Linked DNA regions of Homo sapiens. The protein of the gene in region 2 interacts with the protein of the main gene of each other region in a pairwise test. Each region holds a gene or a part of one and is shown on either strand. Other genes may lie near its edges. The genes, in order: SLC5A6, PDZD11, MAGI2 and ATP7A.

Region 1 (7,025 bases), on a different chromosome or scaffold from region 2:
TACCCCAGAGGATTGCCTTTGAAGACAATATGATACGCTTGGAGAACAGACAGGGTGGATGGTGAATCCCTAGACCTGGGTTCTAATTTATGCTCTGACAATAGTCGGCTCTGTGCTTTTGGAAAGGTCACTTGAACCATCTGAGCCTTAGCGTGTTTATCTGTGAAATCGTCAGTGGTGGGGGGTTGGTTGTAATAGTGGTGTCCAAAGATTTAAGATTTTAAATATTATGATCCCTTCCCTCTTTCTCTGAGGATTGTGGTGTATTCTTGGGGGATTAACATTTCTTGTGCAGGAGTTAGAAAATCAACTTTCAACTTTCCCATGTTTTCAGTTCCTTCTTTCCAACTCCCTCCCGCACAGAGTGCCAAGAGTACTTTAGGCTGAAAGGCTAATCCATCTAGGAATGCTGTTGAATATGAGCTCCCTCTTCCCTGTTCTGGAGCCTCTAGGGCTGAGTTGGAGTTTGGGGGCCATAGGGTGATAGGGCCATTTGGAACACAGCCATTGGTTCCCTGAAGGGGCCAGAACAAATGACTGCTGAGCTTCACCCCACCCCCAATTCCTGATCTCTCACCTCAGCTACTCATAGAGCCAGATCCTCAGCTCTGCAGCTCCAGGCAACTCTGCCTCAGAACAGGGATTGCTTCTCCAGGTAGGTGTCTGTCCCCAGCAGGATACGACCACTCTCTTTGGCTGGTCCCTTTGCCTCTCAGCTCCGTGACTGGGTTGCTTCTCTCCAGAATGGAGAATCGTCATTCTGAAACCCTGACTCCAGCATGGTGCCCTCTCACCTTTCCCCTCTCACTTTTGAATCCAGCCGCTCTTCCTGCGTCTGCTGTTGACTGTGATGTTGCAGGTAGAGGGGCTGAGAGGTGGGTGGCAGCACTTATCTAGTGGTGTTGGGGAGAACCTTAAGAAAGGGGTTGGCCTGGGGACGCCTGAAATGGAGTCTGTGGCTGCCACAGAGGCAGTCTCACTGATGATCAGTTAGAAGGGTGACACTGGGGATCACAGGAGGCGAGGGCCGAGGCCAGGGGCAGTAGGGGAAGCCCTGCTGCCATTAGTCTCCATGCTGTGTTTCCTGCTGGGCTGTGGCGCCAGGCTGGGCTCTGCTGGCTTAGTGTATTGTAGTGACTGGGTCTGTGCCTTCAAGTGGGGCTGGGAAATTCTGCTAAGAAACTTAGGCTAGAGTTTATTTTTCTTTTGGTACTCGGGTGGAGACCTAAGAAGGTTGTTGAATTTCACAGCTGTGCATACTCAAAGGTCCTGGCCAAGTTATATTGTCTCCTGGCTGTCGCACTCTGATGCTTCTCCCTCACTTATGTCCCCTACCAAACCCATACCAGGGCCTCTAGACCTTGAAGGGCTACCACTATGCTGGCTGGTCCACTTCTGATGGCATGCGATGTACAAGGCCCAAGGGTGAATGGCTACCAAGGCCAGATAGGCCTCACTAAGAGCTAATTCCTTTGCAGCTCACCCTGGACAGTATCACTCCGTGGAGGAAGACTGTGAGACTGTGGCTGGAAGCCAGATTGTAGCCACACATCCGCCCCTGCCCTACCCCAGAGCCCTGGAGCAGCAACTGGCTGCAGATCACAGACACAGTGAGGATATGAGTGTAGGGGTGAGCACCTCAGCCCCTCTTTCCCCAACCTCGGGCACAAGCGTGGGCATGTCTACCTTCTCCATCATGGACTATGTGGTGTTCGTCCTGCTGCTGGTTCTCTCTCTTGCCATTGGGCTCTACCATGCTTGTCGTGGCTGGGGCCGGCATACTGTTGGTGAGCTGCTGATGGCGGACCGCAAAATGGGCTGCCTTCCGGTGGCACTGTCCCTGCTGGCCACCTTCCAGTCAGCCGTGGCCATCCTGGGTGTGCCGTCAGAGATCTACCGATTTGGGACCCAATATTGGTTCCTGGGCTGCTGCTACTTTCTGGGGCTGCTGATACCTGCACACATCTTCATCCCCGTTTTCTACCGCCTGCATCTCACCAGTGCCTATGAGGTGAGCAGGGACAGAAGGGAGAAGTGCGTGGGACACGGGTTGGGGTGGAGAGGAGGGACAGGCACATAGGAAGGACCTGGGACCCTAGACCTCCTCCACCTAATGAGAGGGACAGAAAACTCATTGTGTGTTTATAATTCTTTCTCAGTGATGTTAGGTATAGGGGCAGGATTGGAGAGGAGGGTGCTATGCCGAGTAGGACTCAGAGTGGGTATGGGTTGGATATTCCCTCATGTTCCTGAGCATCTTGAGGGAATTTGTCTGTGAGTTGTCGGGGTGAAGTCAGGAGAAAAATCTTTTTTTCTGTATACCCAGTACCTGGAGCTTCGATTCAATAAAACTGTGCGAGTGTGTGGAACTGTGACCTTCATCTTTCAGATGGTAAGCAGAATGAGGATAGAAACCGAGCCTAGGGCATGTTGGGGGACCTGAACGCAAGCATGCTGAGGGAATTGGAGTCTCCCCTGCTCTCAGATTGGCAGGATTGAAATTCCTGCTAGAGGTTAGCATCTGTGAGGACCCCAGAGGCATCCTGCTGCCCATGCCTTCCAATTCCAGCACAGATACTGTGGTGGCAGCAAGCCAGAATTTGAGAGGAGAAGGAAGAGGGAAGTGAGCCTAGGTGAGGGGAAGCCATGGGCATATTGGCGCTGAGGCCCATCTTTCTTCCTCTCTCTTCCCACCATTCTCCGGCCCCCATCACATTTTTTCCACATGCAACAGGTGATCTACATGGGAGTTGTGCTCTATGCTCCGTCATTGGCTCTCAATGCAGGTGAGGAGTCACACAGCCCCTGGCTTTCAGCCGTGGTAGGTTAGGAAAGCACCTTTGGGAGAGGCAGATGGAGGAGCGTATGTGGAAAAGAACCTGACCTTGAATGGGGAATTAATTCACCGCTTGGGCCCTTGGGTGGGTCTCTACCAGAGGAAGGCTTGGTCCACCTCAATTGACAGCTAGTAACATGTTACCATGCCCTATCTGAACTGGTTAGTCAATATCTTTTGGTGGAGCTCTGCAAACATTTTTCTCCGTTGTGGTGAATGATTTATTTCATTGTTAATGACCAATGCTTTATCTCTGTGGCATGACGTGATTGCCCTACCAGGGCTTCTCCCCTGGGGAACCCTTTTCCAGGGATAAGAATGTGGCTTCTATGCTTACAGTGACTGGCTTTGATCTGTGGCTGTCCGTGCTGGCCCTGGGCATTGTCTGTACCGTCTATACAGCTCTGGTAAGTGCAGTAAGCCGTGGTGTGGGGAGGGGAAGGGATGAAGTAAGGAGGGGACATGGGAAGAGAAGGAAAAGAAGAGATAAGCTGAGAATATAGATGAGGAGAATAGGTGAAATTCTGGGGTGGTAAGATTTATGATAGGATTTAGCAGTGGGGATGGTATATGAAGGTAGAGGATGGGATGGGAATGATGTCAACAGGGTCACAGCAATTACATGCCTAATGGCAGGAGAGTCCCCTCACTGGTAGTATGTTCTTAGGGTGGATGGTTTCAGGAGTGTCCAAGGGAGAGAATATAGTCATGGGTTCTTAGTTTCTGTTTCTGGTTGGGTCAGTAAAGCCCCTTCGTCATCCCTCTTTTATACATATCACCAGAGACAGAAACTAAAAACTGGCTTCAGGCTGCAAAAAGCCTAAAACAAAACAAAACAAAACAAAATGGAGCAACAACAAAATAAGGCAGGTTGGACAAGCTGGGTTTAGAAGGCCTCTGTGGCAGGTTTGCTGTGCTTTCCTTGCAGGGTGGGCTGAAGGCCGTCATCTGGACAGATGTGTTCCAGACACTGGTCATGTTCCTCGGGCAGCTGGCAGTTATCATTGTGGGGTCAGCCAAGGTGGGCGGCTTGGGGCGTGTGTGGGCCGTGGCTTCCCAGCACGGCCGCATCTCTGGGTTTGAGTAAGTATACCCCTACTCCTGGCTGGGGTCTGCAGTGCCTGGGCGCTGAGCCCATCCTAGAGGCTGGTCTTGGCTATAGTAAGCAGAAGGTAAACTGGGAAGCCTGAGGTGTAACAGCAGACAGTGGGAAACTGGTCCTGCAGAGATGGAGGGTGATTACAGGTGCCCGGCTAGTGTTTATAGAGAGTCAGGACATTACCTGGGATGAGTACCTGGAATGAGCCTGGGGTGGAAGAATGGAGCCTCCCTCTAACTGGCTGTGCTGTCTCTCGAGTGCACCCAGCTTCTTGCTTTCAGTGTCCCCCTTGGCCCTAGCAGTGGTGTCTCTCCTTTCCTGTCCACTGACTCCTGTTGCCAAGAGGGCAGGAAGGCTGTGTCTCTCAGGCTTTGCACAATGACTGGGTGGTGTCTGTTACAGGCTGGATCCAGACCCCTTTGTGCGGCACACCTTCTGGACCTTGGCCTTCGGGGGTGTCTTCATGATGCTCTCCTTATACGGGGTGAACCAGGCTCAGGTGCAGCGGTACCTCAGTTCCCGCACGGAGAAGGCTGCTGTGCTGTGAGTGCAGGGACAGGAAGGGAGTGGAGCAAGGTCTAGGGGAAGGGGTTCCCCAGAGATAATTGGGGTGGGGCAGGATGCCAGAGTGCATACACATCCACTGTGGTCAGGATGTGGGTCTCCTTTCTGGAGGTCAGGGGCACACACCTGAGGGTGTCTGTTAACGCCGGCTCTCCTCCTGGCACTGACCTCTTTTGCAGCTCCTGTTATGCAGTGTTCCCCTTCCAGCAGGTGTCCCTCTGCGTGGGCTGCCTCATTGGCCTGGTCATGTTCGCGTATTACCAGGAGTATCCCATGAGCATTCAGCAGGCTCAGGCAGCCCCAGACCAGGTGAGAAGGCGCTGTTCTGTTCCCATGAGGGCAGGCCTGGCCCCACAACAGGAGTGTCTAGGTAGGAAAGGACTGACTGCAGAAAGGACTCCCACCCTGGGTGGGAGACGGTTGTAAAATCCTTTCCCACTCTGAGATGCTAGGAATCTAGCATGTGAGGATCGCGGTCCCTAGCATCACCTAACCACAGTGCTCATCCTACTGGGGTGAGGACCTACCCTTACTGACTCCCCATTGGGCTCCATGTGCTCTGCTGGGAGCTATCACATACCTGGTCTCACCTAAGCCTCTAACAGCCTCATTTCACAGAGGAGAAAACAGACTCAATGAGGTAGCCAGTAAGCAGAAGTCACACTAGTAGCCAGAAACAGAGCTGCGGGCGAATTGTGTCATTCCCTCTGTAGAGCTCATTTTCTCTCCACTTAATGTGTAGACACTTGGGTCAGCAGAGGTGCCCCAGGCCCTGGCTTCCCTTGTAATGCACCCAGTCTCGGTAGACTCGCTGGGGCACATGTAAAGGGAGCTTCCCTGCAGAGCCGGCCCTGGGAAGACCCCTCTCTGAGGACTGCTGTGTACCTCCGCTCTGCTTGCAGTTCGTCCTGTACTTTGTGATGGATCTCCTGAAGGGCCTGCCAGGCCTGCCAGGGCTCTTCATTGCCTGCCTCTTCAGCGGCTCTCTCAGGTACCCACTTTAACGATTTCCCTCAGGCCTGGTGCACCTGACCCCTATTTGGTACAAGGTGATGGGTGGAGCGGGGTGATAGTGGGTGGGGAATCCCTCTAAGTTTCTCACTGTGCCTGCCCCATCTGTGTGCATGACAAGGGATAGCTCATCTTTGTAGGCCACAGCACAACAGAGATACCCCTGTTTTGGTTAAGAGTTCTTTTATGGTACCAGAAATTGATCTACTCGAATGAAACCCATATCCACATTCAAAAAAGGACTGTGTCCTTGCCTTCCAGGCCCGCTCTGAGGTGGCATCAAGTCCAACTATGAGGAGGTTTCTTGGTGGTACCTGTCATCTCCCCGCTTTAGGACACCATTTCCTCCATAGAGTCCCATAGAGCTGACAATTTTGCCTCGCTCAACTCCTCATCCTCTTCCTCTTTTTCAGCACTATATCCTCTGCTTTTAATTCATTGGCAACTGTTACGATGGAAGACCTGATTCGACCTTGGTTCCCTGAGTTCTCTGAAGCCCGGGCCATCATGCTTTCCAGAGGCCTTGGTGGGGTTATGCTTCCTCATCTCTTCAGTCTGGGTCTTTCTAAGCTTCATCCTGACCATTGTCATCAGTTTGCTGTAAAACACCCACTTTATCCGGGGCTCAGCACTTGCCTAATGAAGCACACAACCTTCCCTGCATGCATGGTTGTTTCCATCTCAGGGCATGTCCTAGGGAGGTCTCTGAGTCACATAGGAGTGAGGACTTGGTGGGAGGAAGCTGGGGCGTGATGTAATATGCCTTTTGTTTCCAGAGAGACAGAGGTGGTAGTTTGGCTGGGCAGGGAGCCTTGCTTTACCCCATTGCTTGTGTTAACTCACACCTTCTTGTTTCCTCTCCTGTCCTTTTCCCCCAGCCTTTGGCTATGGGCTGCTTTGTCTAGGAATGGCCTATATTTCCTCCCAGATGGGACCTGTGCTGCAGGTAATAACTATAGAGGGTAGGAAGCAATTTTAAGGGAGAGAAGGAATTGATTGAAACAGGAAGTTGAGAAGGGCAGCTATATTGAGGGGAATGACCGGGGGGCAGGCGTAAGAGATTCCCCTTTGATGGACCGTCTTTACTGTGAACAGACTTGCAAGCAGCCAGAGGACGCAGGGTCATTCCTGGGATGTTGTAGGCTGAGAGAGAGCTAAGGATCAGCCTCAGAGAACTCAAAACACATCCCTCTCCATCAGCCCCCTAGCAGCCTTTCCTGCCCTCTGGAGTTCTTTTTTTTTTTTTTTTTTTTTTGAGACAGAGTCTCATTCTGTTGCTCAGGCTGGAGTGCAGTGGCGCGATCTCAGTTGACTGCAACCTCCACCTCCCACATTCAAGTGATTCTCCTGTCTCAGCCTCCTAAGTAGCTGAGGGACTACAGGCATGTGCCACCGTGTCTGGCTAATTTTTGTATTTGTAGTAGAGACGGGGTTTTACCATGTTGGCCAGGCTAGTCTGGAGCTCCTGACCTCAGGTGATCCTCCCGCCTCGGCCTCCCAAACTGCTGGAATTAC
Region 2 (7,234 bases):
AAAAGTAAAAAAATATATTTTTTTAAAAAGAAAAAAGCTTACAGAATAAAGATGCAGAGTGAAAATGTTTATTCCGCTGTGCAATGTATTTGTGTTTTAAGCTAAGTATTATTACAAAAAAGTCAAAAAGATTTAAAAAATTAAAGTTTATAAAGTAAAAAACGTATAATAAGCGAAGGTTAATTTATGATTGAAGAAAGACACAAAGTTTAATAAATTTAGTGTAAGCTAAGTATCCAGTGTTTATAAAGTCTACAGTAGTATACAATAATGTTTTAGGCCCTTACATTCACTCACCACTCATCACTGACTCACTCAGAGCAACTTCCAGTCCTGCAAGCTCCATTCACGGTAATTGCCCTATACGGGTGTATCAGTTTTTACCTTTCATACTGTATTTTTACCTCACCTTTTCTATACTTAGATCACAAATATTTTCCATGATGTTACAACCGCCTACAGTATTCAGTACAGTAACATGCTTTGCAGGTTTGTAGCCTAGGAGCAGTAGGCTCAGGTGTATAGGAGGCTATACTATCTAGGTTTGTATACATGCACTCCACCATGTTCATACAATGACAAAACCGCCTAATAATGCACTTCTCAGAAGGTATCCCTGTCGTTAACTGATGCATAATTATAACTTGCTACTTAATTGTACAGTAGTAGCTTCTAAAACTATAAGCATGGCACCTAAAAGGAACTACAAATGCAAATTTACTTCAAGGTGAAAAAAATAATGACCTTAGGGAAGTCTGTTCCTTATTAGTGTGGCAGACATGTTGTCAAGGAACACAAAGCAAGCTTTCTCTGTTAAATGATCATCATATTTATGTCAAAGCTGTTATCTGCTATTTACCAAGATAATTTTGCAGTCTGAAGGAAAAAACCCTTTAAACTTTGAAACAACGTTTTAATCTAAATGAAAACTTTGAAGTTTTGAAAAAACTTGTTGGTCTAAATGAAGGATCATAAGAAGATGCTAAATTGAGATTTTCACTGTAATAGACCGCTGGTATCAGCTGGCATGACTATGGGGCAAGAGAATAACATTCCATAATTTTCTGCAATACCACAGATATGTGCAGATAGCAATAACTTGGGAAATGAGGTTTTAGTAGTTTTTACAAAATACTTAGGGCTCTGTGGTACCAGGAGTTCAGAGTACAAGAGGGTGCTGTTGAGCTGACTATAAAAAATATTGACTTTGTTTTTGCAACCAAGGGTAATGTTAAGCAAACACATGTATATTGGAATCACTTTCTACTTTATGTTGCCTTTAAAGAACATAATTTAATTCTATCAGTTTCCCAAGTTAAGAATGTAAAAGTAGAACTGTGGTGCTCTTACTAAGCTGTGGAGGTATAGCCTGAGGAATCTGACCAGATAGTGCAGGGTCTGAAAAGCATATTGTTTCAGGAATGGCTAAAGGAAAGGCGGGGATAATTGAAGAGAATTAGGTAGAAACACTTAACGGTTTTCCAAATACTGTATGTAAAAAGGAAAAAGATTATAGTGGAGAAGCCCAGCAGATTAACACCTTAATCAAATGATCAAAATGAACATCAGTAGTAATAGAATAAATCAAAATCATGTGCTGCCCAATAGGCTTCAGTGAGAAGAAAACAGCACCACTTCTGTGATATTCCTGCTAAAAGATACACAACCTGAATCTAATCATAAGTAAATGCCAGACAAAACAATATTGAGAAAAGGTTTACAAAATAACTGGCCTGTAATCTTCAAAGTGTCAAACTCATAAAAGTCAAAAAAAGACTAAAGAACTGTTTTAGAATGGAGACTAAAGAGACAGCAAAACTAAATAAAACGTGATTTTGAACTAGATCTTTTTGCCATAAAATATTTACTGGGACAATTGGTGAAACTTGAATGGGGTTTCAGGAATAGATGGTAGTAATGTAGCAGTGCAAATTTTATTGTTTTGATGGTTGTATTGTGGTAACTTAGAAGAAAGTCCTTTTTTGTAGGAAATATACACTAAAGTATGGGGGGTTATCAGGCCAATGATTCATCTCAAATGGTTCAGGGAAAAAATGTTTTTTATGCTGTTCTTGCAACATTCTATACGTTTGAAATTATTGCATTAATATCTTAAAATTTTGAAACAAAAATTTCAGTGTTCCTTGAGCCATATCATTAAACAAAAAAACGTGAAAAAATATGTGAATAGCTGTTGCCTAGAAGAAGGCTTCTAAAGGAATGAACTAACATCACTGGGTAGAAATTACCAGGAAGCAAATTTCATCTCATTATAAAGATCTTTATAACATAATTAGACTTGTCCAAAACCCAAATCTCAACTGGACTACCTGTGAGTCAGTGAGTTCCCTGTCAAAAAAATTTTAGACACTGGCAGTTCACCTAACAGATATTGTTAGAACGCATTTTTCTTTGGATGAAAAACAAACTAGATGATATACAAATGTCTCTTTCAACTTTAAGGCACTAGCATGCCATGATTCTACTTCTTTTAAACGAACCTCTGTTTTGAATCTTGAATAACCACTGTATTAGAATAATAATTAGACATCTCTCAGGCACTGCTCCCTTCTTTAGAACCCTGCTATGGTCCTCAACAGCATTAAAGACTTAGCTTCCCCAGTAAAGATTATTAACTGGTGATAGTATTCAGAGGCTTTAGGCACTCCCCTTCTCCACCTAAAAGAAGTATACTCATTATTCAAGACCCATCTCAAAGTTTTCCCACTCTGTGAAATTCACCCCAAATTCCCCAAGCAGAGTTAGAGCCATCCTTTTGTTTTTCATACCACTTTGTATGAGAGCAGAGCTACTACTTCCATAGGACTGACTCTGTTGTATATTTTTAACTTGAAAAATTTTTCTTCTAAAAGATAGGTACAAAAAATTTAAAAATTTTTATATATTCAAAATTATTTATGTAGTCATCTATCTCCATTCCTATCCCCTGGACTTTGAACTCCTTCAGGGCCTCGAAGCTATATTATTTATCACCTGAATCCCTCAACAAGCTTTGCAGTGCCTGGGCCTCAAGTAGGTTGGCACACTTATCACCATCAGCAACCACCACAGAGTTTATAATCTAATGAAGTTCCAGGATAAACAAACATATACAAGTCAAAGATGAACAGAACCACATAAAGCAAATACAGAATAAAACTAGCTTCAAGGGTACAGAGACGTTGACAAATGTTATTAGGCTAAGGGCTTCTTGAAGGCAGGAATCATGATTCATCGATTCCTGTATTTGCAGTGCCCAAGCACAGTGCTTGGCACATAGTATATGCTCAAGGAATATATATGTTACGTTCGAGGAATCAAATCGCCTTACCTTTAAATACACCTTTTATGAGTGGCGCTACTGCTGTATTGAAGACTTCTTCCTGTTCAGTAGAGGGATCAAATACAAAATCGTAGGTGAAGGATTTATCTGTACCAACCACCACCTAGAGAAGGCACGGGACAAGGCGTAAGGTTAAAAATGAAAGGCAAGACCACACCCCTCGTTACCATTTGGCCCCAGCTGTTCAGACACAGGCTCTGGACTCTGCTACGCACCTGAGGCTCTCCGGGCACGAAGGAAAGGCACATCTGGCAGCCCTCGCTAATCTCTTTGGGGACCAGAGGGCGACAACGCAGCGCCACTCTTACGGGAATTCCCTTCACCTCTTCCTTCATGATCCTATCTCAGCACCGTCTCTGCGAGGGGGAAAAAGAAGGCTCGCTGATGAATGTTAGTAGGTCAGCAGGGGTGGGAGGGCGTCCTCCCCGGTTCCGACCCTCCTCAGCGGGAACACTGACTTGGGAGATTCACGCTCCATGACTTGGCCAGGGCTGGACCGCCCGTCAGCCCTGCACTCTAAAGAGAGTGCACGGGCTTCTGAAAGGCAAAGAAAAAACTCCAACGGGGACGGCGACAAAGAACCAAAGCCCTAGGGTACTGGGTAAAAACAGGTTCTGAGCTAAGGTGTGCCCCCGTAACTCACCAAACTAAATGTCCCTTCCCCGTTCTCCCTGGGCCTCCCGCCGCCCTGTCCCAGCCGGAGCTTTAACCGCCAAGTTTCAAATCCGTCCCGGAGACGCCAACCAATTGCAGTGCGGACTGCCCGAGGGCGGAGCGCGCACGTCGGCGCGCGCAGGCCGGCGCGGTGGGAAGGGGAGGGTCAGCTCGTTGCACCCTGGCCCGGCCTCTTTTCGACCCTGCGGAGCATCCGCTTCCGGTTCCCAGACTGAATTGTCAGTGAGCGGAGTCTGAGGTCGCTGTGGACTGCCCACTGGTGAGGTGGTGCGGCGTTTATGCGGCTGAGAGTGCGGGTCTCAGGCAGAATGTGGGGCGGGGACGTGGGAGGTGGCTGGTCAGGTGAAGGAAGGGTCGATCTAAGGACCCTACCATTACTAATCACATCTAGGAAATGTGGGGCGGTGCCTTGCCCCGAGTCCCTGCGGATAGTTAACACTCCCTTGGGCTTCGAAAGTAGATCTTTTTAGACTCGACCCTGATTTCCTCTTCTCCAGGTTTGAGACGGTAACATCTGTTTTGCAGGATTGTGAAAAATGAGGTCCTCTTTCTAGAGTACCTGACAGGTTGCTTGGCATCCAGAAGATGTTTAGCTAAGTTAAGAGTTTTCTTCTGTCTTCCTTCTCTCCTCCAACCTTAACACCTAGATATGGGCTGGGCCTGTAGACTGACTGCCTTGGAATGGGTTGGAGCTGCTGTCTGAAACTTGCTGGGCTGCTCTCCCTTTTGAACCACTTTTTGTCTGTTCTGATTCACTCTTCCAGGGCCTTGCCCGAGATGGACAGCCGGATTCCTTATGATGACTACCCGGTGGTTTTCTTGCCTGCCTATGAGAATCCTCCAGCATGGATTCCTCCTCATGAGGTGGGAACCATCTGTATTCCTGAGTAGGAGATTTTTTTCCCCGTGGGCATGAGATGATGCATGAAAGGTAGGATAGCAGGGTTAGAAGGCGAAACGGAGAGTGAATCTTAGCACTTGTAGCCAGAGGACCCAGAAGCTGGATTCTGAGCAACAGGACCCATTGGGAACTTCTTTATGGAAGCCTCCTGCTAGGGTCTGTTCACACCGGTTAATTCTGGAAATTTGGAGCCTTCATTTCCATACTGTTAAGAGGTTCAGCGCGGTGGCTCATGCCTGTAATCCCAGCACTTTGGGAGGCCGAAACAGGCGGATCACCTGAGGTTGGGAGTTCGAGACCAGCCTGACCAACATGGAGAAACCGCGTCTCTACTAAAAATACAAAATTAGCCGGGCGTGGTGGCACATGCCTGTAATCCCAGCTACTAGGGAGGCTGAGGCGGGAGAATTGCTTGAACCTGGGAGGCAGAGGTTGCGGTGAGCTGAGATTGAGCCATTGCACTCCAGCCTGGGCAACAAGAGCAAAACTCCATCTCAAAAAAAAAAAAAAAAGGTGAAGAAATGGGGAGCTACTGGGCTGCCCCAGTGCTATCCATCTACTCATTTAGTCTGTGTTATCTGTTCTACTTAAATTAAGTCTATGACCTTTCCTTTTCCTGACTTCAGGGTAATTCATTAGTGTTTCAGATGAAGGTAGGTGTGAAGTAAGACTGGTAAAATTTCTGGGGTTGCTGTGTCTTGCAGAGGGTACACCACCCGGACTACAACAATGAGTTGACCCAGTTTCTGCCCCGAACCATCACACTGAAGAAGCCTCCTGGAGCTCAGGTGAACTTATGAAACCTTATTTCAGGCTAGATTCATCCATACCACAAATTGGCAGTGTTGGGGGGATGGATTGGAAAGCAGGTGCAGATGTGAGGAAACTTTCCTTCTTGTGGACAGAAAAGCTGAGATAACACTTCTGCAACTTCTGACTTTCCTCTCAGGGACACACAAGCTGAGCTATTGTACGATGATGCTACTAGTTGTTCTTGTGTTTGTGGTCTCCATTGAGCCCCCATTCTGTGCTCTTGTCTTACAGTTGGGATTTAACATCCGAGGAGGAAAGGCCTCCCAGCTAGGCATCTTCATCTCCAAGGTATTTATGCCCAGTAGGCAATATGGATCGTTACTTCCCTTTGTTAAATTAACAGATTGCAGAACCCTAATGTCCCAAGGGCTGAGAGGATGACTCTGGATTCATAGAAGGGGTATAATGGAGACACCCCCTTTCCCACTTAAAACTTTTCATTTGGCAGGCCATCTGTCTGCATACATTGTCACAGAAAAACAATAGCACCATACATTTGAATAGCACCGAATTTCACTGACAGTCTTCTGAAATTATCGCATCCCAATCACATGTATTCTCTCTTTACCAACAGGTGATTCCTGACTCTGATGCACATAGAGCAGGACTGCAGGAAGGGGACCAAGTTCTAGCTGTGAATGATGTGGATTTCCAAGATATTGAGCACAGCAAGGTGAGCACAGTACTTGGGCTGTGGTGCTGCAAGAAGCCATCTCAAATAGGACAGATTGGACAGGAGTAGCCTAATCTGTAACTTAATAAGAAAGCATTTTGCTGGGCACTGTGGTACACGCCTGTAATCCCAGCTACTTAGGAGGCTGAGGCGGGAGGATCACTTGAGCCCAGGAATTTAAGACCAGCCCAGGCAACGCAGCAAGACCCTGTCTCAAAACAAACAAACAAACAAACAAAAAGAGAGAGAGAAAGTAAGCACCTCTCCTGGGAAAGTACAGGAGGGAAGCAGCTATTAGTGACACACAGGTTGGAGTGGCAAATCCCTTTCCCCCTATTATGATTCTGTCTTGGGTCATATCTCTTCATTTGTACAAGCTGCTGTGTTCCTTCCAGGCTGTTGAGATCCTGAAGACAGCTCGTGAAATCAGCATGCGTGTGCGCTTCTTTCCCTACAGTAAGTGCCACTTTCTTTTTTCACTTTCCTGACAGGGCCCTAAGTAAGAACTCTTTAAATACTGATGACTAGAGGCCCTACAAGTTGGGGATAGGGAATCAGGAGCTCAAGCGTGAAGATAACCTGCTCTGTTCCTCCTTTTCTTCTTCTTTCCTTCAGATTATCATCGCCAAAAAGAGAGGACTGTGCACTAGAAAGTTGCAGCCCACAGCCCTTCATGTGGACTCTGTCATGACATGCTAACTAGACTTCAGGGGAGCCACTTCTGTTTTCAGCCCCTCCCTGGAATAGTGAGTTGGGAGGATGGGGAGACAGCTAACCAACTGCATTACCCAAACCATATTGCACTTTTAGTTCCCTAGTTTTCTAGGTG
Region 3 (7,025 bases), on a different chromosome or scaffold from region 2:
ACATCCATGAGTGCTTTTTCACAAGGTTCTGGTTGAACCATCATTTTTACCTTGACTTCGTAAGGAGCCAAATAAAAAGCATACAATATGGCATTTGTCAGAGATTTTTAAATAATATTTAACCTTCTCATAATCCTGAGCATCCAACAGGACCACCGAGAGGAGTGGTTTGTGTGAGCTGTCATGGCTGGCCCACCTCTGGAGGCCGTGTGATCACTCTAGCCTCTTTAGAATGCAGAGTTACAAAAGCAAATCCCATTTCCATTGATTTAGTTACAGGTCGGAAGTGAAAGCAAGGCAAGATGTGAAACCAGACATCCGACAGCCTCCATTCACAGACTACAGGCAGCCCCCGCTGGATTACAGGCAACCCCCAGGAGGGGACTACCAGCAGCCCCCACCCTTGGACTACAGGCAGCCTCCCCTACTGGACTACAGGCAGCACTCCCCCGACACCAGGCAGTACCCTCTGTCGGACTACAGACAACCCCAGGTACCTCCTCCCGGAGAGCAGGGTGGGTCCTGACCAAGGCTTCCAGAGAACTGCAAGGAATGAAATAGGAGAGGCAGAGGAAAGAGTACCTGTCTGGGATGGAGAGCTGAAGTTCTATTCCTAGTTCTGGTAACATCGGGGTAACACCTGCATCCTCAGAAACATGCTGGATAAATAAATCTATTTCAGAATAAAGCAGGACAATAAATAAATATGGATAAATACATAAATAAATAGCGGATGAGTAGTAATGGAATAAACTAATCCCTGCTAATACTAGCTAACTCCTTGTACGTTTCCTTGTCAAAGTTTTAAAAATGCTCTAACCTGGGACCTCTGAGAGTGCTGCTAATGCAGAAAATTTTATAGATGCTAGCAGTGGAGGTATTTTAGGTCCATATTTTTTTACGTGGCCCCCTACCTGCCACTCTGTGATAAAGGGCCAAGCCCCTGTGCGTAAGAATAAGACCAGGCTTGGCTTCACAATCCAGAGTGTAGCGCCTGCCACAGCCAACAACTCTCTGTCTACACAACCAGTGTCACTGTTGTTATGATTATTTGTTGATGTGCTTCATGTCAACTTCCTTAACTTCTCTGAGATTCAGTTTCCTAAAGGGAGAGTCTTCCTTACAGGCCAGGATGAGGATTCAACATTTATGAAAAGAGTCTAGACCAGAGTTTGGTATCTAGAAAATATTTCCTACTTCGTAACTACATACCAAGATATAAATTAAGTACAATCTCAACTCTATCAGATTACATTGTGTTTTATTATGAATTGAAGATCAACTTTATGCCCAAAGATTTTAAGAATAGTGAAGATCAGAGAATCTTGGACATACTGCATTTTAGGTAAAAGAGAAATTGATTTTGTACATTCCAACTTGATATTCAATAGTCTGTGCAACTGAGAGATCTAATTATCAGATCCCACTAAATTTTACTTTTCTAATCAGCAAACTCTGTAATTTGTACACACACACACACACACACACACACACACCTGACATTTATTTATGGTGCTCAATAGCAGTGAATGAGAGAAGTAAAAGGAGAGATGATGTCACTCAGGCCTATCTGTAATCATTCCACGTTTGCCAAGTAAACTGATGAATACCAAAGTAAACAAGCTACACAGTAATTCTTTGATGACCAAGTAAACTGTGCTCTGGCCTGCTCAAACCTTTGGAATTTTGTCTTTCATTTGGGTAGTTTATGAAGCCAGATTACGACTTCTCCCAACATCATGTCATTTGGAATACATTAACTAAGAGACAGAAGGAGAACACAGAGACTAGCCACAGAAGCTTCTCTGATAACTAAATAATTATTTATTCCATTTTCTCCCCAACCCCAAAGGATTTTGATTATTTCACTGTGGACATGGAGAAAGGAGCCAAAGGATTTGGATTCAGCATTCGTGGAGGAAGGGAATACAAAATGGATTTGTATGTGTTGAGACTGGCAGAAGATGGACCAGCAATAAGGAATGGGAGGATGAGGGTAAGAACAGTCTCTTTTTATAGAATTGCTTAATTCTGAAAGAAAAACCGACTGTGGTATTGGAAGAGTACTGAAGCATGCTGTCAAGCGGGGTTGCTGTAGGTTTGCCCTCTTTCTAGTTGATGATGACCCAGTTTCTTAAAAGTCTGGCCACTTGCTATTTTATAATATCTCTCATTCTCATTTTTCTGCTTATGACCTTCTAATTGATTAACCTCAGTAAAGTACTATTTTTCTAAAGAGCAAATGAAAGAAATCTAAGAAATAGCTTGAAAAGGAAACATTATTTCTCCATAATTCTTTCTATGGTTTGATGATTCTGTTTTGATTAAGGTTGAATCTTTTGAAATTTATTTTTAGTTTTGTGCTTTTTCCCCCATATTGATTAATCACATGGTTTTGCGGGACTTTTAGGAAATTTTTCCTTTGTGTTGACTGGTCTTTTGGTTTGATACTGGGCAGACAGAAGCATTAGGAGTAAAAGGGATTTGGCTTCTTGGATACAGGTTGTTCTTAAAAATGACAGCAGGGGCCGGGCGTGGTGGCTCACACCGGTAATCCTAGCACTTTGGGAGGCTGAGGCGGGAGGATCACAAGGTCAAGAGATGGAGAACAACCTGGCTAACACTGTGAAACCCCATCTCTACTAAAAATACAAAAAAATTAGCCAGGCGTGGTGGCGGGCGCCTGTAGTCCTAGCTACTCAGGAGGCTGAGGCAGGAGAATCGCTTGAGCCCAGGGAGGCGGAGGTTGCAGTGAGCCAAGATCGTGCCACTGCACTCCAGCCTGGGCAACAGAGTGAGAATCTGTCTCAAGAAAAAAAAAAAAAAAAGACAGCAGCTAGAAATTTTCCAATTAAAGTTAAGAGTAGATTTTTTCATTTAATAATTACTTTGAGGCATCTGATTGATGGGTAACTGATTCTTCATTTAAGGGTATAAAACAAAGCTTGTTAACAATATAAAATATTAGTCTCTTTACTCTCTCTGTGTGTTTGTGTGTGTGTGTGTGTCGGTGTATGAATAAAATCTAGAATTTATTCTTGCCCTCCCTCCTGCCTCTTTAAGTTAATAAAGAAAAGCTGTGGCTTTGGGGTTCCGGAACCTCAGGTTCTTGTGCAGAGCCTCACCAACCAATTTTCCCTGATGGCTGAATCTGTTATTTCTACCACCAAGTCTGCATTTCTATGATACGCATTTCCAAGTCAGAGGATTATCCACAGTCCAAAAGCAGAAGGCATGCACATCATGTCTTTGTTTCTCCCCACTACCACAATCCTTTGACAGCTGGGAAGCATCCAAGTTGGAATTTAAACCCAGGCAGGGCTGACACCAGAGACTGGCAGCCCTCCCCGTGATCTAGCACCAGCCTCCTCTTACCCCGTCTAGCCCTGATTTGAAGATGGGCCTCCACATGGTTTCCTGGCTCTACAGCTTCCCTATAAGCCAGAAGGACACTTTCTTAACCTGCTATAAGGCCAGCTCACAAGCAGTTAAGTAAAACAAAATTAATCTTTCCAGTGCAGGTGAAACACAGTAGGAAGACCATGTGCAAAATGGCCAGAGCCCTGTGAGAGATAGAGACCCACGGTGGACTACAGGGCTGGTCTCTGTCGGTTACAAACAGTGGCCATGTATTTTCACAAGGGATCTAAATGACTCGCTGCTGGATATACACAGTACTCCCAAGGCAAAGAAGCCTAAATAGAGAAATACCCTTGCAGGAAAAGATTCCTCTTTCTTACAGAATTTAAGCCAGAGCAATGGTTCTCAGCACGGTTCCTGGCATCAGCATCACCTGGAAACTTGGTAGAAATGTAGATTCTCTAGCCCCACCCAAAACTGCTGAATCAGAAACTCTAGGAGTGGGGTCACCAGGCTATGTTTTAGGAAGCTCTTCAGGTGAAACTCTGAGGTTTTACCTTCCGAGGTTTTATTATAGATACCTGTGTCAACTGCAATCCAAAAATATTACATAAAATTTTTCAGAAATAAACAATTATAAATTTTAAATTGTGCAGCGTTGTGAGTATCGTGCTGAAATTTTGTCCTTCCCAGAAGGTGAAACAGCCCTTTATCCACACTGTAGATGCTACCTGCCCACTGGTTACTCAGCAGCCCTCTCGATTATCAGATTGACTATCATGGTATCGCACTGCCCGTGTTCAAGTAACCGTTGTTTTACTTAGTAATGGCCCCAAAGTGCAAGAGTAGTGATGCTGGCATTTTGTTATAATTGTTCTTTTTTTATTGTTTTTGATCCCTTGCTGTGTCTAATTTGTAAATTAAACTTTATCATAGATATATATAGGGAAAACAGTGTATATAGGGTTAGTTCTGCCTGTGATTTCAGGCATCCGCTGGAGATGTTGGAATATATGCAAGAGGTATGAGAGGGAGCTACTATATTCACTTTATCAAAAAACCAGTGGAGAGTAGCAAGTTTTGACTTTAATTATTATACTAGATGGTTTTTCAACATCAGTTAATACTGATGTATTAAAAGTTGAATAGATAAAACAAAACACAATCTGTGAATGCAGAAAATAAGGGGAATAATAAAAAGAGATATATCATTGTCACGTCTGCTTGCTTTTCTTCAGTCAGTCAAGAAGGCTGGTGTCATAAGAGAAACACAATGGACATTCAGATTTTAAGGAAAAGGATAATAAATTATTAGAAAATATTACTGGAGCTGTTTATAAAAAGAAGACTTACGTTTGTAAAATGGCCTAATAAAATTGGGAGGGATGAAATTTTCATAGCTAGTGAATAAAATCTCTGATACAAAGCTCCTAGGAATATAACCTAATTAAAAGCCAAAACTAAATAGAAAACACAGGCAAAAAATAATGAACATAAAAAATAATATTGGCAAAGCTCAGTAAAACAGGGAATGTAAGAAATCAGGAGACATTTGGAGGGAAAGAATAGAAATTCTAAGTGCTTAAATAAAAATCTGAGAGTCAAGTTAAAAGAGAAATCTGAAAGGAGATCGTTTGCTCTTAAAATGGTAAAATATTTTCCTGTTTCCATAAAAGTGTAATATAGTTCGCATTTCCATAAAATGTATTTTTATGATGAAAAAGAACATTATTTCATAACTTCATCACTTGCAGCTGGGTACCATTTGTGTATGCCTATTTAGCATCACATAAGCTTATTTATAAGATGGTTTACCTACTTTCTGAAACTCACATGATGCAAAAGTCTGCCTGCAATGGGCTTTGGAATGACTAAAACATTTTGTTCAACCAATCAATGCACAAAAAAATATCATTTGCCCATCTTTTTTTTAAAGGAAAAGCAACATTCCCTGAAATTAGCTTCTTCTAAATTTGTCACCTTTCCTTCTATAGACCAGATATAACTAGTCAATACAAAAGCATCTTGGTTTATATATTGTTTTTATTAAACATAAAACGATTTACAAGAATATTTCTAACATATGTAATAAGTGTAAATACTAACCATGATTCAAGGACCCATGAACCCATAGCCCCACTTAAAAAACAGAACATTACCAAGCTCCCATGATTTCATTCTCCTCCTACTCTCCAGCCCTCAGAGGGAACCACCTTCCTAAATAAAGCACTTGACATTTCTTCTGTTGTTACCACAGATGTGTGTATCTCTCAACTATAACCTTTAGCTTGGTGCACTTTGTGAACTTTATGTAACTGAACCATACTGTACATGTTCTTCTCTGTGGTTTGCTTTCTATATGTTATGTTCATGAGATTCATCCAAGGTTGGTGCATGAAGCTATAGTCCATTTATTTTTCACTGCTATAAGTTATTTCATTATGTGAATATGCTACAACCTATAATAATTATCTATTTTTCCATTTTATGGACATTTGAGATTTTCCCTGTCAATTTACACTTTGGTTGTTTCCAAGTTTGTTGTAACTCATACAATCTTTGTACATCTTTCCTGCTGTACCTATGCAAGACTTTCTCTAGACTAGACTAGATGCCTTGGAGGGCACAAATTTAACTTACCTAAGTAACACAAAAGTATTGTCCAAGGTGGTTTTACAAAGTTATACTTGTATTAGCATATGTAAAAAAGTTTTTCTTACTACACACACTCACAAGATTTGTACGTCAGACTTTTAAACTCTCATTCTGGTAGGTAGAAAATTATATATTTTAGATTTGGATTTGCATTTCTTGATTACAAATTCATATTCATCATTTTTTCTTATATTTATTAGACGTTCATGTTCTCTCTTAACTAAAAAATGCCTGTACATGTCTTTCCTCATTTTCTGTTGAATATTTCTTCATGTTGATTATAGAAATGCTTATATATTATTGGTGATCTTTTTCATCAATTAATGTGATACAGATATCTTATGCCAGCTTATGGCTTGCAGTTTCACTTTCTTTATGATGCTCTTTGATAATGAGAAAGTCTTAATTTTAGCGTAATTGGCTTAACCCTTTTTTTTTTTTTTATAGTTTCTGCTTTCTGTGTCTTGTTTGAGAAATCATTCTCCAAGACATGGTCTTAAACGTCTTCTCTTATATCTTCTTCTAAAAGTTGTATAGTTTTACTTTTTATATCTAAGTATTTAATCACCTACAGTTGATTTCTCTGTATGATATAAGGTAGAACCTCAATCTCAATTTTTCCATATGGATAACCACATGTCACAGCATCATTATTTTTTTTTTTTTTTTTTTTTGAGACGGAGTCTCGCTCTGTCGCCCAGGCTGGAGTGCAGTGGCGGGATCTCGGCTCACTGCAAGCTCCGCCTCCCGGGTTCACGCCATTCTCCTGCCTCAGCCTCCCAAGTAGCTGGGACTACAGGCGCCCGCCACTACGCCCGGCTAATTTTTTGTATTTTTAGTAGAGACGGGGTTTCACCGTTTTAGCCGGGATGGTCTCGATCTCCTGACCTCGTGATCCGCCCGCCTCGGCCTCCCAAAGTGCTGGGATTCCAGGCGTGAGCCACCGCGCCCGGTCCACAGCATCATTATTTAATGAGTATTTCTTTGTCCCACCCCCCACCAATCTGCAA
Region 4 (7,025 bases), 7.7 Mb from region 2:
GTAGGCTGTTACATTTATTTTCAGAGGAACTTTTTTTTTTTTCCGAGACGGAGTTTCACTCTCTTGTCCAGGCTGGAGTGCAGTGGCACGACCTCCGCCTCCCGGGTTCAAGCGATTCTTGTGCCTCAGCCTCTTGAGTAGCTGGGATTACAGGCGCCCGCCACCATGCCCAGATAATTTTTACATTTTTAGTAGAGACGGGGTTTCACCATGTTGGCCAGGCTGGTCTCGAACTCCTGGCCTTAAGTGATACACCCACCTCGGCCTCCCAAAGTGCTGGGATTACAGGCATGAGCCACCACTCCGGCCCAGAGGAACGATTGATATAATGGAAAAATAGTTCCTCTGAAAATAAAAATAACAACATTGGTTCCTAATAAAAGATTAAGAGAAAAAGACAAGCTGTCGAAATATTGGAGCAATGTGGGGAATGAGGAAGGTGGGGTAGGGCAGAGAAGGGAAGTTATTTTTGGAGCAGGGGTTGGGGTTAGAGGACATATGAAAGGAGAGCAGCACAGACCCGGAATCAGACTGCCGCCAGCACTTTCCAGCTCTATGGAGTCTGCCTGGTTTTGCTCATCACTGTATCTCTAGCAGCTAGCATAGTGCCGGGCACATAATGGACATTCAATAAATATTTGTTGAATACATAAGTACCTTTTTTTTTTTTTGAGGCGAAGTCTTGTTTTGCCGCCCAGCCTGGAGTGCAGTGGTGCAATGTCGGCTCACTGCAACCTCCACCTCCCGAGGTTCTTCAAGTGATTCTTCAAGTGGTTCTTCAAGTGGTTCTTCAAGTGATTCTCCTGCCTCAGCCTCCCGAGTAGCTGGGATTACAGGCACCCACCACCACGGCCAGCTAATTTTTGTATTTTTGGTAGAGACGGGTTTTCCTGCATTGGCTAGGCTGGCCTCAAACTGTGACCTCAAGTGATCCGCACACCTCAGCCTCCCAAAGTGCTGGGATTACAGGTGTGAGCCACCACGCCCAGCCAATAAGTACCATTTTGACTTCCTGCCCAAAGATTTAGCACCCAGAGCTGTACTGTGAATTTGTTTCCTTTGAGACCTTAGGTTTGAAAAGTCTCTTTGCTATCTAACATTCAGAGGCAAAGTTGAGTGCTGTTACCCCAAAGAGGGATACTTTTGTTTGTGCTGAGTGTGGTTGGTCAGCTTTTAAAACAGAAATAGAATTTACTAAAGGAAGTGTTTTCTCATCTGCAGCATGCAAATAGCGTAGGGTACTTTGACTTCTCTTTTGTGTAGTATTTTATGCATAGTTTTCTTATGCCTTTTATAAATAAAAGATAGGCTAAAGCAGTTAGAAAGTATAGCAAACCATCCAGTGACAAAGTGATTTTTTTTTTTGAGACAGTGTCACTCTGTCACCCAGGCTGGAGTGCAGTGGCACGACTTTGGCTCACTGCAGCCTTGACCTTCAGGCTCAGGCAATCCTCCCACCTCAGCCCCTTGAGCAGCTGGGACTACAGGAGTGTGTCACCATGCCTGGGTAATTTTTGTATTTTTTGTGGAGACAGGGTTCCACCATGTTGCCCAGACTGGTCTGGAATTCCTGAGCTCAAGCTATCTGCCCAACCACCTCAGCATCCCAAAGTGCTAGGATTACAGGCGTGTGCCACCTGGCCTGAGGAAGTGATTTTTGCTTTTAAAATGAGAACAATTTCTGATTGGCTATGTTGGTAAATTGACATTTTTGGGGGGGGTGGGTGCGGGGGAACCAGGTCTTGTTTAAGATGTACCGGATACAACGTATTTAAAGGGCAAGAATCCTTTACGTTGGTACTTTATCAGAAAAAGTATAGTAGTACCTAGAGCAATACCACCCAAGAATGGTCTGTGATGATGGAAATACTGTGTATCCGCCCTGTCTGGTAGGACTAACCACATTGGCCAATGAACACTTGAAATGTGGCTAGTGCAACCGAGGAACTGAATTTTTAATCTTATTTAATAGTTTTTTTTGTTTTAAAAAATAATCATCTAGTAAAATAGACTTTTTTTGGGTATATAGTTCTATGAAATTTTTTTTTAGTTTTGTGAATGTTAACACATGTATAGATTTGTTTAACACCAACACAACCAGGACATAGCGCAGCCCTGTTACCCCTAAAAAACTCCCTCTTGCTACCATTTTCCCTACCTCTAACCCCTGGAAACCACTGTTCTGTTCTCCATCTTCCCCTTTAGTTGGAAAGTTTAAATTATTTACAGTCATTTTCTTAACCCTAAAATCACCTCAGGGGAGGGAAATTAAAGTTTAAAAGAGGCCTTCTTTAAAAACACAAGGACACAAAAGCCTTCATTTGATGGTGGCTACTCTTATATTGCATGTCTTTCAATACTATATGTCTCAACTATACGTGGTTTGACTATTCTGCATTTTTTTTTCATGGAAAATGTTATATAGTATTATCCAAAACCAAATATAATTTATTTCCCCACTTCTGTTTTGGATCATTTATGCTAGTGATTTCCTCCATCCCTAAGAACCAGCTAGCCAACTAGAATTATCAGAGTCTTAGAAACTTTCCATGCCATGGGTACATTTCACATTTTCACCCAAATACACAGTCATCAATTATCAAGCTAAAGGAAGAAATAAAAATATGTTCATTAAAATAAGTGAAAGATTTAACTATTGTAGACAATTTAAAGAGAGATTTTCTATGCTGAATTACTTTTAATTATAATTTTGAGTTTTTATTTTATAGAGCAAAGCTTTTCACTAGAAATTAATAACACCTATATTTAACTGCTTTTTTGAATATTAATATCCTATGGCCATCTCAAAAATCAATAGGTCCAGCACTGAATTTATCATCTCTCCTTTCCCTCCACTTTAACCTCTTAATTTCCTCCTGATTTCCTCCTCTCTTTCTGATATCAGTTAATGACGCCACCATCTATCTATCCACTGGCCCAAGCCAGATACCTTTAAGTCATCCTAGTCGTCTCCTTTATCCTATACATCTTGTTAGGAGGCCCTACCCTCCTGAATGTATCTTGGAGCTGCCTCTTTTATCTTTGCCCCCAGTATTCATGTCTTAATTCAGACCCTCTATTGCACTACTTTTGCAATTGCAGTAGCCTCCTAGCTGATAGTCCTCCCTCCTGTATCACTCCACCCTACTACACTATCATCTTCCACACTGCCTCCAGAATGATCCTTCTCTAAAATGAAAATCTAATCACATAATTCTCTGCTTAACTTTTCCATGGCTTCCTATTACCTATAGGATAAATCACAACCATTATTGGCATATAGAACCCCATAATAGAGCAGTTGCCTAATTTTCAAGCCTCTTATCTTTCTCTACTTTTTTGTTTCCATTCATCTGGAATTCTCTGCCTCATATATCCTTGCTGATTCCTGTTTGTCCTTTAACATTCAGGTATTATCTCTCCTAAGAATACTTTTCTGACCCATATTCCCAGGGATGAATGGGTATCCCTTTTCTGTATTCTCTGTCCTATTGTTCCTGTGACATGTTCAGCTTTGTATCCTGAGAATCCCAGTTCCTGACGCACATAATAAGTGCTCAATAAATATTAGTTGCTCAATGTTTAATTTTATATAATTCACTGCTGTTACGAAGAACTTTCCTATTTACTCGTATGATCCTTGTAATAGCCCTGGAAGATAATAGGGCATATTTTCTCATTTTTCAGATGGTAGAACTAATGGGTGTGGTTAGCTAATAAGTGGAGAATTGATGCTGGAACTTAAATCTTCTGACTCCCAACCCAGTATTTGTGTGTGTGTGTGTGTGTGTGTGTGTGTGTGTGTGTGTGTGTCTTCATCATGAATCTTTGTAAGATGTCAGCCAAAGAGATGCAATCATGACAGTAGTTAAATTATATGCAGTAACTAAGCTACAAGAATATAATCATTGTTTTATAATCTAATTGGGCAAAACAATAAAGATGTTCTTATTTTGAACAAAATTAATAGTATGCTCTAGTGACTTAGGGGGATATAGGAGTATATGCTATAAAATCCTATGAATACTGCCTTCACTCATAAACCGGCAGGCTTATACTTTTCTTGCCAACAAAGTTATCCTAATTGAACATTATTTTTATTTTTTTAAATTGACATATAATAGTTATACATATTTTTAGGAAATTGGACATTTTAAAATATTAAACTTCATATTACCTTTTATTTTTCTGTAGCTGATCCTGTTTCATGTATAACCTTTTCAGTTGGTAGAGTGTGAAGTGTTGGAGTAATTTATGAAAGGAATGGAAGGAAAGAGTAGTTTGTACTCTGTTGTGAAATTCTTGGGTGTGTTTGTCAATATACATGTTTCAAATGCCTGATAGGTACCACAGTCACATATGTCTGCATATATAACTTTACCATTCTTGTAGGTACACAAGACATTTTATGTTTCTTTCTAACAAGAAGAGTAAAAATGAAAACTAATAGGGAAACTCCATTAGATTGAGTTGTCTCACTCTTCTTGAATGTGGTGTGATGATTATTATTTTAAATCCTGTGTGATAGAATTTAATTAAACTGACTTTTGGAATTTCCTTCCAAAAGGTATCACTGGAAGAAAAAAATGCAACTATTATTTATGACCCTAAACTACAGACTCCAAAGACCCTACAGGAAGCTATTGATGACATGGGCTTTGATGCTGTTATCCATAATCCTGACCCTCTCCCTGTTTTAACTGACACCTTGTTTCTGACTGTTACGGCGTCACTGACTTTGCCATGGGACCATATCCAAAGCACATTGCTGAAGACCAAGGGTGTGACAGACATTAAAATTTACCCTCAGAAAAGAACTGTAGCAGTGACAATAATCCCTTCTATAGTGAATGCCAATCAGATAAAAGAGCTGGTTCCAGAACTCAGTTTAGATACTGGGACACTGGAGAAAAAGTCAGGAGCTTGTGAAGATCATAGTATGGCTCAAGCTGGTGAAGTCGTGCTGAAGATGAAAGTGGAAGGGATGACCTGCCATTCATGTACTAGCACTATTGAAGGAAAAATTGGGAAACTGCAAGGTGTTCAGCGAATTAAAGGTAATGTGTCTGGTGTTGATTGTTTTGTAAGGCTTAGGTGTCTGTTTTGATCTTTTAACTTTTTGCTTTCTTCTTAAGCATGAGTTTTGAATCCATGAGACTAGAGTGCTTGCTGTATCATTGAGGTACAGCATATTCCCAGGATTAAAAGTTAATGATTATAATTAAAGGTTACATAAACCTTGAACTGAAGAAAAGGCAGCTGGGTTGGCAATTCATGGAATTCAAGGTTCTTAACACAACATGACTAGGGTACTCTTTACCTCTAATATATTTTACTTAGGCATGGAGAAACTTGGAGACCATAGCTACAGTGGTCATATCTCTTACTTGTTTCTAGTCTATGCCAATAACATTTTCTGAAAAGAAAAAAAATTAAGAAAATATGATGACAAGAATGAGAGAGAAACAATTATTTGTGGTTATTGATTTAGAAAACAGAATGTTTTCTGAAGTAGCCCAGGAATAACTGAATTAATTATATTTCTTTTTATTAACTAGTCTCCCTGGACAATCAAGAAGCTACTATTGTTTATCAACCTCATCTTATCTCAGTAGAGGAAATGAAAAAGCAGATTGAAGCTATGGGCTTTCCAGCATTTGTCAAAAAGCAGCCCAAGTACCTCAAATTGGGAGCTATTGATGTAGAACGTCTAAAGAACACACCAGTTAAATCCTCAGAAGGGTCACAGCAAAGGAGTCCATCATATACCAATGATTCAACAGCCACTTTCATCATTGATGGCATGCATTGTAAATCATGTGTGTCAAATATTGAAAGTACTTTATCTGCACTCCAATATGTAAGCAGCATAGTAGTTTCTTTAGAGAATAGGTCTGCCATTGTGAAGTATAATGCAAGCTCAGTCACTCCAGAATCCCTGAGAAAAGCAATAGAGGCTGTATCACCGGGGCTATATAGAGTTAGTATCACAAGTGAAGTTGAGAGTACCTCAAACTCTCCCTCCAGCTCATCTCTTCAGAAGATTCCTTTGAATGTAGTTAGCCAGCCTCTGACACAAGAAACTGTGATAAACATTGATGGCATGACTTGTAATTCCTGTGTGCAGTCTATTGAGGGTGTCATATCAAAAAAGCCAGGTGTAAAATCCATACGAGTCTCCCTTGCAAATAGCAATGGGACTGTTGAGTATGATCCTCTACTAACCTCTCCAGAAACGTTGAGAGGAGCAATAGAAGACATGGGATTTGATGCTACCTTGTCAGGTAATTATCATTTTTTCTTTGATTACCCTAATGTTCTTTTACTTCCATTTTGCTGCTTCTTTTGGCATTTATCAATGAGAAATGATTCATAGGCACTGTAATTCCACTTTTGCAAATATGTCCTATGGAGGTAGCCAGCAGTATATACAAAGATGCATAAGGATGTTTGTATAATTGCTTATGATATTTAAAAACTGGAAACAATAACTCGTGGTGCAACAATAAATAACTCATGATGAAATGCTATGAAGTCATAAAACATTATGGTATTAAAGATAATTAATGCCACAGGAAGGTGTCTGAGGTATTTTGTTAAATGAAAAAAAGCTGAAAAGCTATATATACAATGTGATCAAAATTTTATAAAGAAATGTATCTGAATTTACGCCATGTATATATTGTTTATGTATATGAATAAGATTCCTGGTAGGATATGAACCAAAATTTTAACAGTGATTATCTTTGGGTGGTAGGATAAATGTGATTTTTGTTTCCATTGTGTTTCCTGGTTTTATAAGTTGTTTTTACAATAAGAATGTATGTATGTAGCTATGTATTTATATAATGGGGGAAGCCAGTGCTCTTTTAAAAACAAAAGTAGTTGAAATAAATAATAGGATTTTAACTATAATTTTATATTTAGGCATTCAAATTAAACTGACTCCAGAGCTGTCCCAAAGTTTTCGTATTTCCTGACAGCTCTTACCTTTGAACTGAAACAAAAAATGTATATTCAATGGA

Evidence for each region.
Region 1: the proteins of PDZD11 (region 2) and SLC5A6 interact in binary tests that used the Homo sapiens proteins (3 or more experiments, as listed by UniProt).
Region 3: the proteins of PDZD11 (region 2) and MAGI2 interact in binary tests that used the Homo sapiens proteins (3 or more experiments, as listed by UniProt).
Region 4: the proteins of PDZD11 (region 2) and ATP7A interact in binary tests that used the Homo sapiens proteins (3 or more experiments, as listed by UniProt).

The regions. Positions count from the first base shown.
Region 1 is NC_000002.12:27,202,244-27,209,268, reverse strand, and holds part of SLC5A6 (sodium-dependent multivitamin transporter), read left to right. Parts: intron 1-1,478; 5' UTR 1,479-1,618; coding exon 1,619-2,011; intron 2,012-2,326; coding exon 2,327-2,392; intron 2,393-2,734; coding exon 2,735-2,786; intron 2,787-3,175; coding exon 3,176-3,243; intron 3,244-3,764; coding exon 3,765-3,919; intron 3,920-4,337; coding exon 4,338-4,478; intron 4,479-4,678; coding exon 4,679-4,808; intron 4,809-5,401; coding exon 5,402-5,490; intron 5,491-5,923; coding exon 5,924-6,036; exon of another isoform or gene 6,037-6,388; coding exon 6,389-6,456; intron 6,457-7,025. UniProt on the Homo sapiens protein: Sodium-dependent multivitamin transporter that mediates the electrogenic transport of pantothenate, biotin, lipoate and iodide.
Region 2 is NC_000023.11:70,286,903-70,294,136, reverse strand, and holds the start of PDZD11 (PDZ domain-containing protein 11), read left to right. Parts: upstream 1-4,209; 5' UTR 4,210-4,277; exon of another isoform or gene 4,278-4,308; intron 4,309-4,515; exon of another isoform or gene 4,516-4,699; coding exon of another isoform or gene 4,700-4,795; coding exon 4,796-4,882; intron 4,883-5,623; coding exon 5,624-5,707; intron 5,708-5,963; coding exon 5,964-6,020; intron 6,021-6,306; coding exon 6,307-6,405; intron 6,406-6,800; coding exon 6,801-6,861; intron 6,862-7,020; coding exon 7,021-7,055; 3' UTR 7,056-7,234. Other genes in the region: chromosome-associated kinesin KIF4A, read right to left, coding at 3,332-3,446, 3,559-3,678. UniProt on the Homo sapiens protein: Mediates docking of ADAM10 to zonula adherens by interacting with PLEKHA7 which is required for PLEKHA7 to interact with the ADAM10-binding protein TSPAN33.
Region 3 is NC_000007.14:78,120,665-78,127,689, reverse strand, and holds part of MAGI2 (membrane-associated guanylate kinase, WW and PDZ domain-containing protein 2), read left to right. Parts: intron 1-273; coding exon 274-493; intron 494-1,852; coding exon 1,853-1,996; intron 1,997-7,025. UniProt on the Homo sapiens protein: Seems to act as a scaffold molecule at synaptic junctions by assembling neurotransmitter receptors and cell adhesion proteins. Plays a role in nerve growth factor (NGF)-induced recruitment of RAPGEF2 to late endosomes and neurite outgrowth.
Region 4 is NC_000023.11:77,983,675-77,990,699, forward strand, and holds part of ATP7A (copper-transporting ATPase 1), read left to right. Parts: intron 1-4,567; coding exon 4,568-5,057; intron 5,058-5,558; coding exon 5,559-6,284; intron 6,285-7,025. UniProt on the Homo sapiens protein: ATP-driven copper (Cu(+)) ion pump that plays an important role in intracellular copper ion homeostasis.